Regions from separate parts of the Homo sapiens genome. Here region 1 is linked to region 2. The links come from fine-mapping of genetic effects on gene expression. Tissue or cell type: whole blood. Region 2 holds a variant in brackets; the other region holds the start of a gene. All regions are shown on one strand. Distances are between the middles of the regions.

The links. PIP is the estimated chance that this variant, and not a neighbour inherited with it, causes the effect.
Region 1: it holds the start of RNF114, and the variant in region 2 is fine-mapped to the expression of RNF114 in whole blood (TOPMed, PIP above 0.99).

What each region holds. Positions count from the first base shown.
Region 1 is chr20:49,932,579-49,940,681 of GRCh38, reverse strand. RNF114 (ring finger protein 114) reads right to left here and starts at 4,285. Exons shown (of 6, transcript NM_018683.4): 1 at 4,130-4,285. The coding sequence starts at 4,269. It overlaps LOC124904976 (small nucleolar RNA U13), which reads left to right and starts at 282; the gene lies at 282-386. RefSeq lists silencers at 996-1,290, 2,916-3,210, 3,496-3,790, 4,249-4,438, 5,005-5,084 and 1 more and an enhancer at 4,031-4,636.
Region 2 is chr20:49,897,794-49,905,896 of GRCh38, reverse strand. It overlaps SPATA2 (spermatogenesis associated 2), which reads left to right. Exons shown (of 3, transcript NM_006038.4): 3 at 1-2,506. The coding sequence ends at 278. Among named protein-coding and RNA genes, the nearest start is that of SPATA2, 14 kb to the left of the region's middle. The variant C/T (reference allele first, on the strand shown) is at 4,180.

The sequences.
Region 1 (8,103 bases), 35 kb before region 2:
CAGCACTTTGGGAGGCCGAGGCGGGCAGATCACAAGGTCAGGAGATCGAGACCATCCTGGCTAACACAGTGAAACCCCGTCTCTACTAAAAATACAAAAATTAGCTGGGAGTGGTGGCGGGTGCCTGTAGTCCCAGCTACTCGGGAGGCTTAGGCAGGAGAATGGCATGAACCCAGGACGCAGAGCTTGCAGTGAGCCAAGATCGCGCCACTGCACTCCATCCAGCCTGGGAGACAGAGCGAGACTCCGTCTCAAAAAAAAAAAAAAAAGGGTTCAGATGGATCCTTTTGTAGTTCATGAACCTGAGGACTGGGTGTTCATGTGCATGTGTGAGATGTGCCACCCTCGAACCTTGTTACAGATGTTGGCCCATTACCCCTCTGGCATTTTAAAAAAAGAGGTCAGCTAGCAGAGGAAGGGAAGACTATTCTAGGCCTAATTTAGGCTTAAAATTGATATGTATCTGAGGAAATAAAAATCTAACAGACTTTTCCTCATAAACAGTAGGGAGCCAGGAGTTTAAAAGGAAGGTATTAACAAAACAAGGCCAAATCCAGGTTTCAGAAAAATATCTCTGTGCTATCATGGAAAACAAAGTTTTGTTACTTTTTTTTTTTTTTTTTTTTTTGAGACAGAGTCGTGCTCTGTTGCCCAGGCTGAAGTGCAATGGTGCAATCTCGGCTCACTGCAAAATCTGCCTCCCCGGTCCAAGCGATTCTCCTGCTTCAGACTCCCAAGTGGCTGGGGTTACAGGCGCGCATGACCACACCCAGCTAATTTTATATTTTTAGTAGAGACGGGGTTTCACCACGTTAGCCAGGCTGGTCTCGAACTCCTGACCTCTGGTGATCCACCCGTCTTGGCCTCCCAAAGTGCTGGGATTACAGGTGTGAGCCACTGAGCCCAGCCCTATAGTTTTTTTTTTTTTTAGGTGAGAAGGTGAGAAGAGACAAAGTAGAAACCAAACAGATGGCTAAAGGCAGAGGATTGTGAGGGTCTGACTGAAGCAGCAGGGGATGAATTCAGGAAACCATTCACAGAAAGGTAGAATCAGGAGGACTTGATAACTTACTGACTTTGAAGAAAAGAAGTCAAAGATGACCGAGTTCCTATCCTGAAGCCTAGGAAGATGGTAATGCTGAGATAAGGCATACAGAAAGAATGGAGAAGACACCCTGGGCTACTTACCCAACCTGATAGATTAAGACAGTATAACCAAATCTGCCAGAAAGAACTAAAGATATATAATGAAAGGCCATCTTCTGAACACTTGACCATTTTCTACTGCCTCTAAGAATCTCCTTCCTCCTTGTCATTAAGTTAGATGTTAATGCTGTTAGGCAAAATTCCAGACCAGGTACAGAGAAGGTGAGGGAGTCTATTCATTCACCACTGAGGGCAATGGAAACTTGACAAAGCCCTGTTCTCATGATGCTTACATTCTAGAGTGAAGGGAAACACAAATGTTAATTTCAGATAGTGATTAAAAATATGAAGGAAATATGGCAAACAGACCAGCTGGGGTGATCATAGAAAGCTGCTTCTGAGGAGTTGGCATTTGAGCTGGGTGGGACCTGATTACGAGGACAGCCACACAGATCTGGGTGCAGAGCTCCACACCAAGATCACGCCACACACAAATGAGGACTGGAAAGGAAGGCAGGCAGACCTTGGGGGCCATGATGCGGTAGACCATGGTGAGAAGGGCAAGTGATGAGGCAGTAGAGACAGGCAGGGCCTGTGGCCATCACTTGTGTTGCCTGTTCACAAAGGCAGATGACAAGAGGAACCCAAGAGAGCACAGAGGGTCCAGTGAGTATAATGGAACCAAACCCAGCATGCAGATAAAAGCAGCTCGAAGTCTCTTCTCAAGCACACACACAGGTACAGCTCATCTATCAAATGTTCACGAGTCACTTTGTGCCTGAGACATGCCCAAACTACCAGCCTGCTTTTGAACAACTCAAATATCCTGGGATGGCTTTTCAGTTTCTATTTCCTACTTATGCGCCCTTTTCTAGTTCAGCCTTCCGATGCTCCACTCCGTCACAGTGCTAGGAAGAAATTCCCTTCTCTTGGGCACCCAGCCAGCTGCCTTTCTCCAGCTGTATTCTACCAGATTGGAGAACACAGTCATTCAGGGCTTGAAATAAAGTTTTATAAAAATCCAATGCCCCAGCCAGAGTTGCAGTGATGCTCAACTTTCCAAGCACAAAAGGTAAAAATCAACTAGGCACAGGAGAAAGCAGTCGGTTGGAGCTAGCGGGGATTTGGGCTGCCCTCACAGAGGTGCTTCCATCTGTCTTCAATTTGCACTGAACTGCTGATCACGTGGGGCTAGGACAGCGAGGATAGAGAAGAGCCAAGGTTTGAAAACCAGTACTGTTCCTTGCCCTCTGACCTAGGAAAGGTTCACCAAGCTCAAGAAAATCTCAAATTTTGCTGCTCTTCATTTAGCAAACTGTGCTGGGTCTAGCCTTTTTACAAATGTTAATAGTAAATGAAATCCACTGAATTAATCCAAAATCAGGTAAATCTGATCCAAGGATAAGTGGATTCAATGAAAAAGCTAAAGACCACTTCAACTCTCGTGAAGCTTGCTTACACGACTTATTAGTTCATTCAACCATTACCTGATCACTCACCCCACGCACAGAGGTGTGATCCCTGAAATACCCTCCCACTTGCAGAATGAATTTTTACAATAGTTTGACCAGTCATTGGTACTTATTTATAATCAATTCACTGGACTGTAAACTCTGAAGGCAGAGTCTACCCCAAAATCTGGCACACAGAGGCCATTCCAGTCAGTTCAGGGGCAATAAAGATATGGCCACTCCGTCATGAGCTGTTAAGTTTTGCTCTGTGCAAGCAAGGAGAAGGAAGTTAAGTCCCAGAAAGGAAGTGGGGGAAGTAATTTAGATGGGGATGGTATTTGGTGAGGTAACTTAACCTGGGACTTGAAGCCTGAAAAGGGAGGGGTGGGGGGAAGAGTTCCAGGCTAACCGAATTGCAAAGATGAATAGCCTAAAGCAACATGATGAAGCAAAAAGCAGCCAGCTAGGTGCCAAGCACTGTTCTCTGGACTACTGAAATGGTCACCTGCAGTACATCTGGGAAGAGCTAGGCCACGGTGACCCTTCCCTAAGAGAGCCTCGGACCCTCAGTGTATTCACCTGTAAAATGGCTGCCAACCCTCCCCCGCTGCAGGGTGGCTATAGAATAATGCCCATGGAGTGCAATGGCTACTGTGCCCGCTGCCAAGACCAATGCCAAGGTGATCCCACGATAAGCACTGAGAGGGGCCAGAGGAAAAGCCAATTCTGAGGCAAGAAGCAGGTGGCCACGTTGTCTACAATTCTTTCAACTCAGATGTGTTTGTGCGTCTGATGGAACAAGGCTTAGATTCAAATCGACCAACCTGACCAACCTCGAAAGCCCCGGCCACAGCCCAGGACCTGGACTGGACATTTATACACATATCTGCTTTAATCATTATAACCACTCTATTCACAATATTCAGGTCATGAAGGCTTAATTGAAAACTGAAAGAAACAAACCTCCTACACAGGAAGTAGAATGCTAACAATCCCATCTGCCAACTCCCACCCCCCTTTCACAGCTAAGGGCAAACTGGCCAGATCCCCATAAAGACTTCCCTTTTGTTGTTTTAGTCTAGTTCAGCGTTTCTCCCGACTTTAGTGCACAGTAGAATAACTCGCCACAGCTAGACACGACGCCAAATGTCCTATGCTTTAAGAGCGACGTGGACTAGAAAGGAAACGTCGGCTCTCCAAGGGCGGACTTCGGAGCCTAAAGTCCCCGCAGGGCACGAGTCCACTATCACGTGTGGGAAGGAGACTGACAGGCCGCCTGGAACATCGCAGGCGCTCAACAGACAGCAGCTGCCCCGCTAAGACGGGCGGAGGAACGGGATACTTAGGAGTGAGCGGGGCGGGACAGAAGAGCGCCCCGGCAGCTTTCACGGCCCTTAGGAGCCCCGGGGGACACCCCCGGGAGGCCCCTCTGGGTGGGTCCTCTGGCTCCCGCCCTGAGACCCATCTCGCTCCTCGGCTCCATTCCCTTCCCAGTTAAGCGCCCCCCGACCAGGCCCGGGCTCGCCGCTTACACGTGTCCGCAGGGCACCTGTACCGGCTTCTCGTACACCTCTAAGCACACGGGACACGTGAAGCGTCCTAGGGGGTCAGCCTCCGCCGCCGGCCCCGCCAGCTGCGCAGCACCCCCGCAGTCCCGCTGTTGCGCCGCCATCTTGCTGCCGCTCTGCGCCGCGCAACGGCGGCCGATGAGGAGGAGGCCGAGGGGGCGGGGCTCGCGGGGCGGTGAGCGGTTGGGGGCGGGGCTAGCGGGTGGGCCGCCCCTCGGGGCCCCTCTGACGCAAGCGAGCTAGAGGCCGAGGGAAATCTGGAAAACGTGGAAGCCAAATCCAAAGGCTGCCAGAATTGGGACGGGCTCTGCGCGTGGGCCGCTGTTTTCCAAATTTATCGTTAGTTCGGCACCACTTGCACTATCACTATTTATCTTCGAATCAAGTTGCTTTTTCCTTAAATTTATTTATTTATTTATTTAATCTATTTTGGGACAAGGTCTTGCTTTGTCGCCCAGGCTGGTGTTCAGTGGCGCGCGCGATCATGGCTCCCTGCAGCCTCGACCACCGGGGTTCAAGCGATCCTCCCACCTCAGCCTCCTGCGTAGCTGGACCACAGGCAGTCACCACCATGCCGGACTAATTTATTTATTTTTGTATTTTTTGTAGAGACGGGGAAAGGAGGGGGGGAAGGAGTGGTGCAGAGAGCGGGCGGGTCTCACTGTGTTGCCGAGGCTGGCCTCGAACTCTTGGACGCAAGCAATCCGCCTGCCTCGGCAACCCGAAGTGCTGGGATTACAGCGGTGAGCCACAGTACCCAGCCATTTCTTAAATTTAAGCAAATTCTAATAACAGATCTAATTCCTGAGCTGCAAGAAGAAAATCAATATCATTTATTTATACAAAGGAGCTGGGCAAGGTGGCTTACTTCTGTAATCTCAGCACTTTGGGAGGCCGAGGTGGGCGGATCGCTTGAGCCTAGGAGTACTAGAGCAGCCTGGCCAACATGGTGAAACCCCGTCTCTACTAACAATACTAAAATTAGCCAGGCGTGGTTGCCCATGCCTGTAGCCTCAGCTACTCAGGACGCTGAGGCAGGAAAAGCCTTTGACCTGGGAGGCGAAGGTTGCCGTGGGCCAAGATGGCTCACTCACTCCAACAGTCACTAAACTCCAGCCTGGGCAACAAGAACGAAACTCCGTCTGAAAAAAAAAAAAAAAAACAAAAACACAACCTGGCTAACACGGTGAAACCCTGTCTCTACTAAAAATACAAAAAATTAGCCGGGCGTGGTGGCGGGCGCCTGTAGTCCCAGCTACTCGGGAGGCTGAGGCAGGAGAATGGCTTGAACCTGGGAGGCGGAGCTTGCAGTGAGCCAAGATCTTGCCACTGCACTCCAGTCTGGGCGACAGCGCGAGACTCCCTCTCAAAAAACAACAACAACAACAACAAAACAAAACAAAAAAACCCCAACAACAAAGTACATTCATTTCATATTGTGCAATCATCACCATCAGCTATCTCTAAAATTCTGGTCTTCTTGCTAAACTGAAACTGAAATTCTGTCCCCATTAAACAATAACTTCCTCTTCCCTCCTCCCATCCCCATACCCCCAGGCCCTGGCAATTTTCTGTCTATGATTTTGAAGCACTTATAGCTATAAAATTTCCCCTGAGCACTGCTTTCACTGTGTCCAGTAAATTTTGGCATGCTGTGTTTTTGTTTTCATTTGTTTCTCAATATTTTCTCTATTTATTTAATTAATTTATTTATTTTGAGATGGAGTCTCACTCTGTCGCCCAGGCTGGAGTGCATTGGTGCAATCTCTGCTCGCTGCAGCCTCCCTCTCCTGGATTCAAGCAATTCCCTTGCCTCAGCCTCCCAAGTAGCTGGGATTACAGGTGCCTGCCACCACGCCTGGCTAATTTTTGTATTTTTAGTAGAGACAGGGTTTCACAATGTTGGCCAGGCTGGTCTCAAACGCCTGACCTCAAGTGATCCGCCAACCTCGGCCTCCCAAAATGCTGGGATTACAGGTGTGAGCCACCCAGCCTGGCCTGTTTCTGAGTATTTTCTAATTTCCCTTGTGATTTCTTCTTTGATCCATTGGTTCTTTTAAGAGTGTGTAAATTTCCACAAATTTGTGAATTTTCCAGTTTTCCTTTGATATTGATTTCTTTTTTTTTTTAACCCCCCCATATTGATTTCTAGCCTTATCCAATTGTGCTTGGAGAAGATATTTGGTATGATCTCTTTTATTTCTTCTTTCTTTCCTTCTTATCTTTCTCTCTTTCTCCTTTTCTTCTGTCTCTTTTTGTAGAGATGAAGTCTGGCTGTGTTGCCCAGGCTGGTTGCAAACTCCTGGGCACGAGCAATCCTCCTGCCTCAGCCTCCCAAAGTGCTGGGATTACAGGCCTAAGCCACCACAGCTGGCTGATGTCTACCTTTTAAAATCTCTTGAGGCTTAATCTGTGGCCTAACATATGGTCCATCCTGGAGGATATCCCATGTGTGCCTGAGAAGAATGTGGATGCTGTTGTTGCTGGGGAGTGTCTGTACATGTGTTAGACCTGGTTGTCTTACTGTGTCGCTCAAGTCCTTTATTTCCTTACTTGTCTCCTGTTTGTTCTATTTATTCTTGGGAGTGGGGCATTGAAGTCTCTAACTATTATTGTGGAATTGTCTATTTCTTCCTTCAATTCTACCAATTTTTGCTTCATATGTTCTGATGGTCTGTTATTAGGTATATAAATGTTTATAATTGTTATATCTTCTTGCTGTATTGAACTTTTTATTAACATACAATGCCTTCTTTATCTCTTGTAACCTTTTGGACAAGTAATTTTTCTTTTTTCTTTTTTTGAGACAGGGTCTTGCTCTGTCGTCCAGGCTGGAGTGCAGTGGTGTGATCTCAGCTCACGGCAACCTCTGTCTCCTGGGTTCAGGTGATTCTCCTGTTTCAGCCTCCTGAGTAGCTGAGACTACAGGCATGCACGACCACGCCTGGCTAATTTTTGTATTTTTAGTAGAGACAGGATTTCACCATATTTTTTAGGCTGGTCTCAAACTCCTGACCTCAGGTGATGCACCCGCCTCGGCCTCCCAAAGTGCTAGGATTACAGGTGTGAGCTACCGTGCCCGGCCTGGACAAGTAATTTTTCTGATATTAGTATTGCCAGCCCTCCTCTTCTTTGGTCACGCAAAAAGATATTTGCATGAAATATCTTTTTCCATCCTTTCAGAACCAGTCTATAAAGTGAGTTTCTTATAGAGAGCAATACAGTTGAATCATGTTCTTTAAAAAAAAAAAAAAAAAAAGCTGGGTATGGCGGCTCATGCCTGTAATCTCAGCAGGAGGAGGCTGAGGCGGGTGGATCACCTGAGGTTAGGAGTTCAAGACCAGCCTGACCAACATGGTGAAACCCTGTTTCTACTAAAAATACAAAAATTAACCGGGCCTGGTGGTGCATGCCTGTAGTCCCAGCTACTTGGGAGGCTGAGGCAGGAGAATCGCTTGAACCTAGGAGGCAGAGGTTGCAGTGAGTGGAGAACGAGCCACTGGACTCCAGCCTGGGCAACAAGAGTGAAACTCAGTCTCAAAAAAAATTTCTTTTAAATTAATTTTTTTTTTTTTTGAGACAGAGTCTCGCTCTGTTGCCCAGGCTGGAGTGCAGTAGCACAATCTCGGCTCACTGCAAGCTCCGCCTCCTGGGTTCACGCCATTCTCCTGCCTCAACCTCCTGAGTAGCTGGGACTACAGGCGCCCACCACCACGCCCGGCTAATTTTTTTTGTATTTTTAGTAGAGACGGGGTTTCACCATGTTAGCCAGGATGGTCTCGATCTCCTGACCTCACGATCGGCCCACCTCGGCCTCCAAAGTGCTAGGGATTACAGGCGTGAGCCATTGTGCCCAGCCTAAATTTTTCCTTCCTTTTTTCCTTCCTTCCTTCCTTCCTCCCTCCTTCCCTTCCTTCCTTCCTTCGTTCCTTCCTTTG
Region 2 (8,103 bases):
TGCGGGAGAAGTACCCAGGCCAGACTCAGGGCCTCGACCGCCTCCCGCACCTTCACTCCAAATCCAAGCCCTCCACCACGCCCACTTCCCGCTGTGGCTTCTGCAACCGCCCAGGCGCCACCAACACCTGCACCCAGTGTTCAAAAGTCTCATGTGACGCCTGCCTCAGCGCTTACCATTATGACCCCTGCTACAAAAAGAGTGAGCTGCACAAGTTCATGCCCAACAACCAGCTGAACTACAAGTCCACCCAGCTCTCCCATCTCGTGTACAGATAGACCGGCCTCGCCCCTTCCAGCTCCAAGGGCTACATCAACCGACCTTTCGGGTTTCACGGTGAAGAAGTACTAACGCATTGATCTCAGAGGCGGAGGCCTGCACTTGACCATGTAGGTGGCAGAGATCGTGGGCTGGCTGTGTCCACGTGGGAGTTCACTTAGCGACTCAGATATCTCAACCAATGGCTGCTTTGTTGTCTGACAAGGGAGAAGGTGGCACTTCCGTTCAGATTCATTTTGCTAATCTCTCCACTCCCTGTTCAGTTGGTTCTTTTTTTGGGGTTTTGTTTTGTTTTGTTTTGTTGTTTTGTTTTTTCCTTTAAAGAGGATTTCTGTCTCTGGGACCCTCGCTGCACCTACCCCTCCCATTGCAAAGCCAACTTGGACTGGGAAGGGCCCTTCAGGTCACCAAACATCCACCTGGAGCGGCGAGCTAGAGGCCTGTTGGCTTGTGAAATGAGCCCTCCTGCCACACGGGGCCTCTCCCAAAGGCTCATCCCTTGGCCGCCCCCTTCCTAAACACAAGGATCCCCAGCTGGACTCCCCACCCCCTGGCTTCCCCACCTCTCCAGGTGTCAAAGGTGAACCGAGTCCAGTATTAGCTGAATGTCATTTCGTACACCACAGCTCAGTCAGCCCATGGCCTTCGTGAACTTTGCTCCAACACACTGATGTGTGGGCTTCCCACAGCAGGACTGACTTCCCCCTTTCTGTTGTTTGCACATGCCCCTCTTACTGTACTGTCAATAGATATTTTTGAGATTTATTTTTAAATAAATATTCAACTTGCTGTGTGTTTCAACGTGGTTAAAAAAATGAATTATGTAGCTATTTATTAAATGCCCTGGGTTCTTTAGTCTTCCAAGGGAGGGCCTCGCGCCCATTCGTGTTGTATCCTCCACTCACTATGGCCCGAGGGGAGAGGAGAGTTTGGGGCAGGGAGGAACAGACATGAAGCCTCCTTTTCTTGAGCTGGTGGAGAGCCACTGTCTTCCCTGCAGTAACTATCTATACACCTACCTCCAGTGTGCACTTAGGGGGTGAGCGCGGGTGTCGAGGTCTGTGTGTCTGCAGACTGCTAACCTATGACAATTCAGGGACCTCACCTGTCGGACCTATAGCTTGCTGAGCAGGAACCTTGCACTTCACACTTCTTGAGTCTCGTTTCAGAAGGAAAATCATTTGGGATTCCTACTGCCCCTCCATCTCAATCCTCTTCTCTTCACCAGTTTCCAGGACTCATCTGCAACATTTGCAATCTTTTTGCACTAAAAGTGGGCAGGAGTCGGCATGTGCCCATCAGAGAGACGGCTCCTCAGATGCTCAGCTAAGCCTAAGCGCTTCCAAGCCTGAAGGCCCCTTCAGCTTCTCATGTGAATTACCAACCCCTGGATTTTCCTTGTGGGGGTACAAGAGCAGGAGTGGGGCAAGAGTTTGAAAATAAAGCCGCTTCCTTGTGAACTAACTATATTTTAGCCATAACTGTTTGTGATGTACACAATGTTAAGGGATTTATATGCAGTGGGCTTTTCTGGGAGAAAGTTATTCAGCTCTTGAGCAAGTTTAAGTCTGGCTGAATCCTGAGGCCACTGTGAATTTGCTGATGTTCTTCCAACTCAGTTGAGTGATTTTAAGGTTTTCCAAATCTTCTATGGCTCTCTTTTTAATATATATATATATATATATATATATATATATATATATATATATATATATCTATCTGGTAGATCACATGTAGATGTACAGTGTGTATATTAAGCTGAATTTCAACCAACTTTATTACTAAGACCAGCCTAGCAGGGCATTCATCTTTGATGTTCTTCCTTTTCACATTTCAGAATCGGCAATGCCTGGCCCACTCCTGAGAGCTCTAGTTTTCTAGTTTTCCATTTCCAGATTGCGCCAGCATTACAGTAACTAACTCTTTCTAACCAACCGTGATGCCACGTAACTTACCCTATGGACAAAAGCAGGAATGACTAACACATCCTAGGAGGGAAAGTCCAGTGTACCTGTCATCACGGACGCACTGTGGTCACAGACTGGAATACGAAATACTACAGCCCTGCTCCCAGGTGTGCATCTTACTGGATGAGGTTGCTGTGATTGAGATAGTTAAATACATGCTAATTTAAAAATGCAGATGTTTTACATTTGATTTCTACCAAGAGTTGAAATGTTGAGAGATGATTAAAAATAATAATAATAAAGTGTCTTCCATTGTTAAATGAAGTGTTTGGGGTTTTATGTCCCCTGGCCCTGCTTTGAAGTTTGGTTACTTGGGAGTTTATTTTTCCTTAAGCTGTATTTAGTTTTTTAATGACAAGACTTAAATTTTCTCTTCCATGAAACTGACAAATAGCATTTGAGTGCTATACTGCGAGCCTGGCACTTTTTATTTTTTTAATTTTTTGTAAAAAAAATTTTTTTTTTTTTCGAGACGGAGTCTTGCTCTGTCGCCCAGGCTGGAGCACAGTGGCGCTATGTCAGCTCACTGCAAGTTCCGCCTCTTGGGTTCACGCCATTCTCCTGCCTCAGCCTCCCAAGTAGCTGGGACTACCACACCTGGCTAATTTTTCGTTATTTTTAGTAGAGACGGGATTTCACTGTATTAGCCAGGATGGTCTCGATCTCCTGTCCTCGTGATCTGCCTGCCTCGGCCTCCCAAAGTGCTGGGATTATAGGTGTGATCCACTACGCCCGGCCATGTTTTTTTTTTTTAGTTTAAGACGGGCTCTGTTACTTCCCAGTCTGGAGTACGGTTGTGTGATCATGGCTAGCTGTAGCCTGGACCTCTTGGACTTGAGTGATCCTCCCACCTCAGCCTCCCAAGTAGCTACAGGTGGGCACCACTATGTCTGGCTAATTTTAATTTTTTGTAGAGGTGGGGTCTCACTATATTGCCCAGGCTGGTCTCAATCTCCTAGGCTCGAGTGATCCTCCCGCCAGGCATTTGTATCCTGAGACTATGTGCATGATCTTACTTACTAGCTTCAGTCATCCTATTAAATAGGCACTGTTACCATCTCCATCTTACATATGGGGAAATGGCGGTACACAGAGTTCAGATGTTTCCCAAAGAGGGGACTGCATCATCCAGGAGAAATGCTTGTTAGTAGAGACAAAGAGGCATTAATAACATTGGAAGATGTTTTTTAAAAGTTAATTCCATTTGAATTTTTTTCCATCCATTTAACTGTCTTGAGGAGGGAGTCAGTTCGATGCTACCTTGTCTTTAACAGAGAAACCTGGCATCAGACACAGCGTGTGGCAGGCTCTTAGCCAGGTTTTGTTACCTTCTAGGGCAGGCCATACTACTTTTCCATTGTAACAGTGATAGGTTTGCTTTAAAAATCAATTTAAGGGCCGGGTGCGGTGGCTCACGCCTGTAATCCCAGCACTTTGGGAGGCCGAGGCAGGAGGATCACCTGAGGTTAGGAGGTTGACTAGCCTGGCCAACATGGTGAAACCCCGTCTCTACTAAAAATACAAAAATTAGCTGGGCATGGTGGCGGGTGCCTGTAATCCCAGCTACTTAGGAAGCTGAGGCAGGAGAATCGCCTGAACCCGAGAGACGGAGGTTATAATGAGCCAAGATTGTGCCATTGCACTCCGGCCTGGGTTGACAGGAGTGAAACTCCATCTTGGAAAAACAAAACAAAACAAAAAAGGTGTTTTTTTCTTAAGTGAGGATTGACTTAAAAGCAAAATACATGGCAGAAATCTTAAGGCAGCAGCAGCAGGCCTGTGCCCACCCACTGACCACGCTGCTGTGTGGGCTCCCACCAGGCAGCTCAGCTGTCAGGGCAGACACTGAACAGGTTTCTCCATTTCATTTGCTGGCTGAACAAATACCCAGGCCTTGGGCCAAAGCCAGGCTCAGGTGCTGGATTGCTTTGAG[C/T]TATAGCATAGGAAACGGCATTGCCACCCTGGCTGTCGGGGGTAGCAGTTTCCTGGAGACGCACACCTACCCTGGGAGAGCTAAGGAAGCCAGGTGCTTGCTCCGCATCCAAAAGGGAACAGAGACTTCAGAGCAGATTGCTTCATGTACATTACATGTACATGTAAATGACAAACATATTTAAACCTCATTGGGCCCACCAGCTGGACAGCATTAGCTCTGCTGGCCGATCTGTGGCACCTAGGATGCTAGATTACCAATCTCAGGGATGAGAGCTGTGGCAGACACCAAATCGTACCCCAGTCTCCATCCCCTCCCCCTTGGTAGTAGAAGCCCCGGTTTTCAAATCTGTGGCCACCTATAGTAAAGATTGCCTTCCCTAGCCTTTCCTGCAGCCACGTGTGGTCAGATGACTGTCTGGTCCCTGGATGGAGAGGTGCTTTGTGTGGTGTCTGGGCATGGCCTTCAAGGAAGGGAGCTTGCCCTTCCCACCCAGCCCTTCTTCCTGGCTGGAATGGCTGTGATGGCTGGAGATGGAGCTGCTCTATGAAGCTGAGGGGGCCAAGCGAGGAAGGGGTGGGCAGCAGCTACAGCAGCTGGCCCTGATGCTCTGGAAGCTGCCCCCATGGCCTGCCCGTGCTGCCTGCCTCTAGGTCTGTTATATGAAAAATAAACTGTTATCTCACTTAAGCCCCAATTTGTCTATTTTTTTTTTTCTTTGAGACGGAGTCTCGCTCTGTCACCCAGGCTGGAATGCAGTGGCGCAATCTCGGCTCACTGCAAGCTCTGCCTCCCGGGTTCACACCATTCTCCTGCCTCAGCCTCCTGAGTAGCTGGGACTACAGGCACCTGCCACCACGCCCGGCTAATTTTTTGTATTTTTAGTAGAGACGGGGTTTCACCATGTTAGCCAGGATGGTCTCGATCTCCTTACCTCGTGATCCACCCGCCTCGGCCTCCCAAAGCGCTGGGATTACAGGCGTGAGCCACCACGCCCGGCCTAATTTGTCTGTTTTTAAAACCTTTTTGTTTACAAAAGACATGAAGCCTAATCTGGGCAACATAGTGAGACCCCATTAAAAAAAAATTAGCTGGGATGGTGGCACATGCCTTTGGTCCCCAGCTACTTGGGAGGCTGAGGTGGGAGGATCACTTGAGGCCAGAAGTTCCAGGCTTCACTGAGCTGTGATGGCACCAGTGCAGTCCAGCGTGGGCAGCAGAGTGAGACCCTGTCTCAAAAAAAAAAAAAAAAAAAAAGCAAAAAAGTGATACTAGTATAATGAATCCCAGCTTCAGCAATTGAACAGTTAGTTACCAACTTGTGGCCAATCTGGTTTTGTCTCTACCCTTGCCATCCACTTTCCTACTCCTGAACTCTTCTGAAGCAAATTCTAGATGTCTGTCTCATTTGTGAATTTTTCAGTGTTTATCTAAGAGACGAGGGCTTTTAAAACATGATACCTGCTACGGACTGCATATGTCCCCCCAAGAAAAAACAAACGTTGAAATCTAATCCCCCCAGTGTGCTTGTATTAGGAGGGCACTTTGGGAGCTGATTAGGTCATGTGGGTGGGGCCTTCACGAATGGGATGGGTGCCCTTACAAGGGGCTGAAGAGAATGGAGTTCTCCCAGCACAGGAAGACCCAGCGAGCTGACCGTCTGTGAACCAGGAATTGGGCCCTTGCCAGACACTGAATCTACCAGTGCCTTAATCTTGGACTTCTCAGCCTCCAGAACTAAGATAAATAAATTTTTGTTGTATAAAAGCTACCCAGTCTGTGGTATTTTGCAGCCTGAACAGGCTGAGACAGTATTACCTTCACATCTAACTTTTTTCTTGCGACGTGTTTGTTGAGGAAACTGGATTATTTGTCCTTTAGAGTTTGCCAGAGCCTAAATGTTTACTTCAGCCTGCTTGTTGTTTTAGCACTGGGAGTAGTTGTTCTCTCTGTTTACCTCCAATTTCCTACTGTTTATTTGCACATATTGTGCAAAAGTAGAAAAATAAATACTTCTTATGGGAATGATTCAAGGCTGCAGCTTCATAAATGAGAGATGAGAGGAAATCACTTAAGGCAGGGGTGAGCTTAAGGGATGGGAGTAGGTCCAGGTTTTCAGACATGCGAATCTCCACTGGTAACATATTTCAGGTCCTATGTGAGGAGGAGGAGGCGGTTCAAGTGGAACTGCAGGACTATACGGCGTTCTATTTTTAATGTTTTGAGGAGTCTCCATACTGTTTCCATAGCAGCTGTACCCATTTTATCATTTTTATTTATATTTTAATTAATTTTCTTATTGTACACCTGAACTTAATATATTTTATTTTTTTGAGATAGAGTCTGACTCCGATTACCCAGGCTAAAATACAGTTGGCATGATCTTAGCTCACTGCAGCCTCGACCTCCCAGGCTCAGGTGATCCTCCCACCTCAGTCGCCGGAGTAGCTGGGATGACAGAGGCACGCCACCATGCCTGGCTAATTTTTTTGTATTTTTAGTAGAGACGGGGTTTCATCATATTGCACAAGCTGGTCTCAAACTCCTGGACTCAAGCGATCCACCTGCCTCAGCCTCCCAAAGTGCTGAGATTACAGGCATGAGCCACCACACCCGGCCAGCGGTACCATTTTATATTCCCACCTGCAGCACAGGAGTCCCCATTTCTCCACCTCTTTGCTAACGCTTGTTATTTTCTGGGGTTTGTTTGTTTTTATAGCAGCCTTCCTAATGGGGTGAGATGATATCTTATTGTTTTGATTCATATTTCTCTAATGATTAGTGATGTTGAGCATCTTTTCATATGCTTTTCGGCCATTTATATATCTTCTTTGGAGAAATGTCTATTCAAGTCCTTTGCTCACTTTTAATTTTTGTTATTTTAAAAATAGAGACGGGATCTCTCTATGTTGCCCAGGCTTGTCTCAAACTCCTGGGCTCAAATTATCTCCTATCTCGGCCTCCTAAAGTGCTGGGACTACAGGCATGAGCCACTGTGCCCAGCCCTTTGCCCACTTTTTAATTGGGTAAATTTTTTGTTTTTTATTTGCAGTTCTTTATATAGTCTGGATATTGATCCCTTATCAGATACATGATTTGCAAATATTTTCTCCCATTCCATAGGTTATCTTTTTCATACTGTTATTTCTTTTGATGTGCAAAAATTTAAAAGTTTGATGTAGTCGGCTGGGCGTGATGGCTCACACCTGTAATCTTAGCACTTTCGGAGGCTGAGGTGGGCAGATCACCTGAGGTCAGGAGTTTGAGGCCAGCCTGGCCAACATGGTGAAACCCCATCTCTACTAAAAATACAAAAATTAGCTGGGTGTGGTGGCGCATGCCTGTAATCCCAGCTACTCAGGAGGCTGAGGCAGGAGAATCGCTTGAACCCAGGAGGCAAAGATTGCAGTGAGCCAAGATTGCGCCACTGCACTCCAGCCTGGATAACAGAGCAAGACTCTGTCTCAAAAAAAAAAAAAAAAAAAAAAGTTTGATGTAATCCCATTTGTCTATTTTCGCTTTTACTGCCTATGCTTTTGGTATAATATCTAAGAAATCATTGCCAAATCCAATGTCATGAAGTTTCCCCTTAAGTTGTCTTTATAGTTTTGGGTCATACATTTAGGTCTTTTATCTATTTTGAGGTAATTTTTGTATACAGAATAAGGTAGGGGTCTAACTTCATTCCTTTCCTTATGAATGTCCAGTTTTCCCAACACTATCTGGTGAAGAGACAGTCCTTTCCCCATTGAGTGGTTTTGGTACTCCTGTCGAACATCATTTGACCATATATGTGAGGGTTTATTTTTGGGCTCTCTATTCCATTCCATTGGTCTATGAGTGTATACCTGTTTTCATGCCAGTACCACACTAGTTTGATTACTGTAGCTCTGTAATATACTTTGAAATCATGAAGTGTAACGC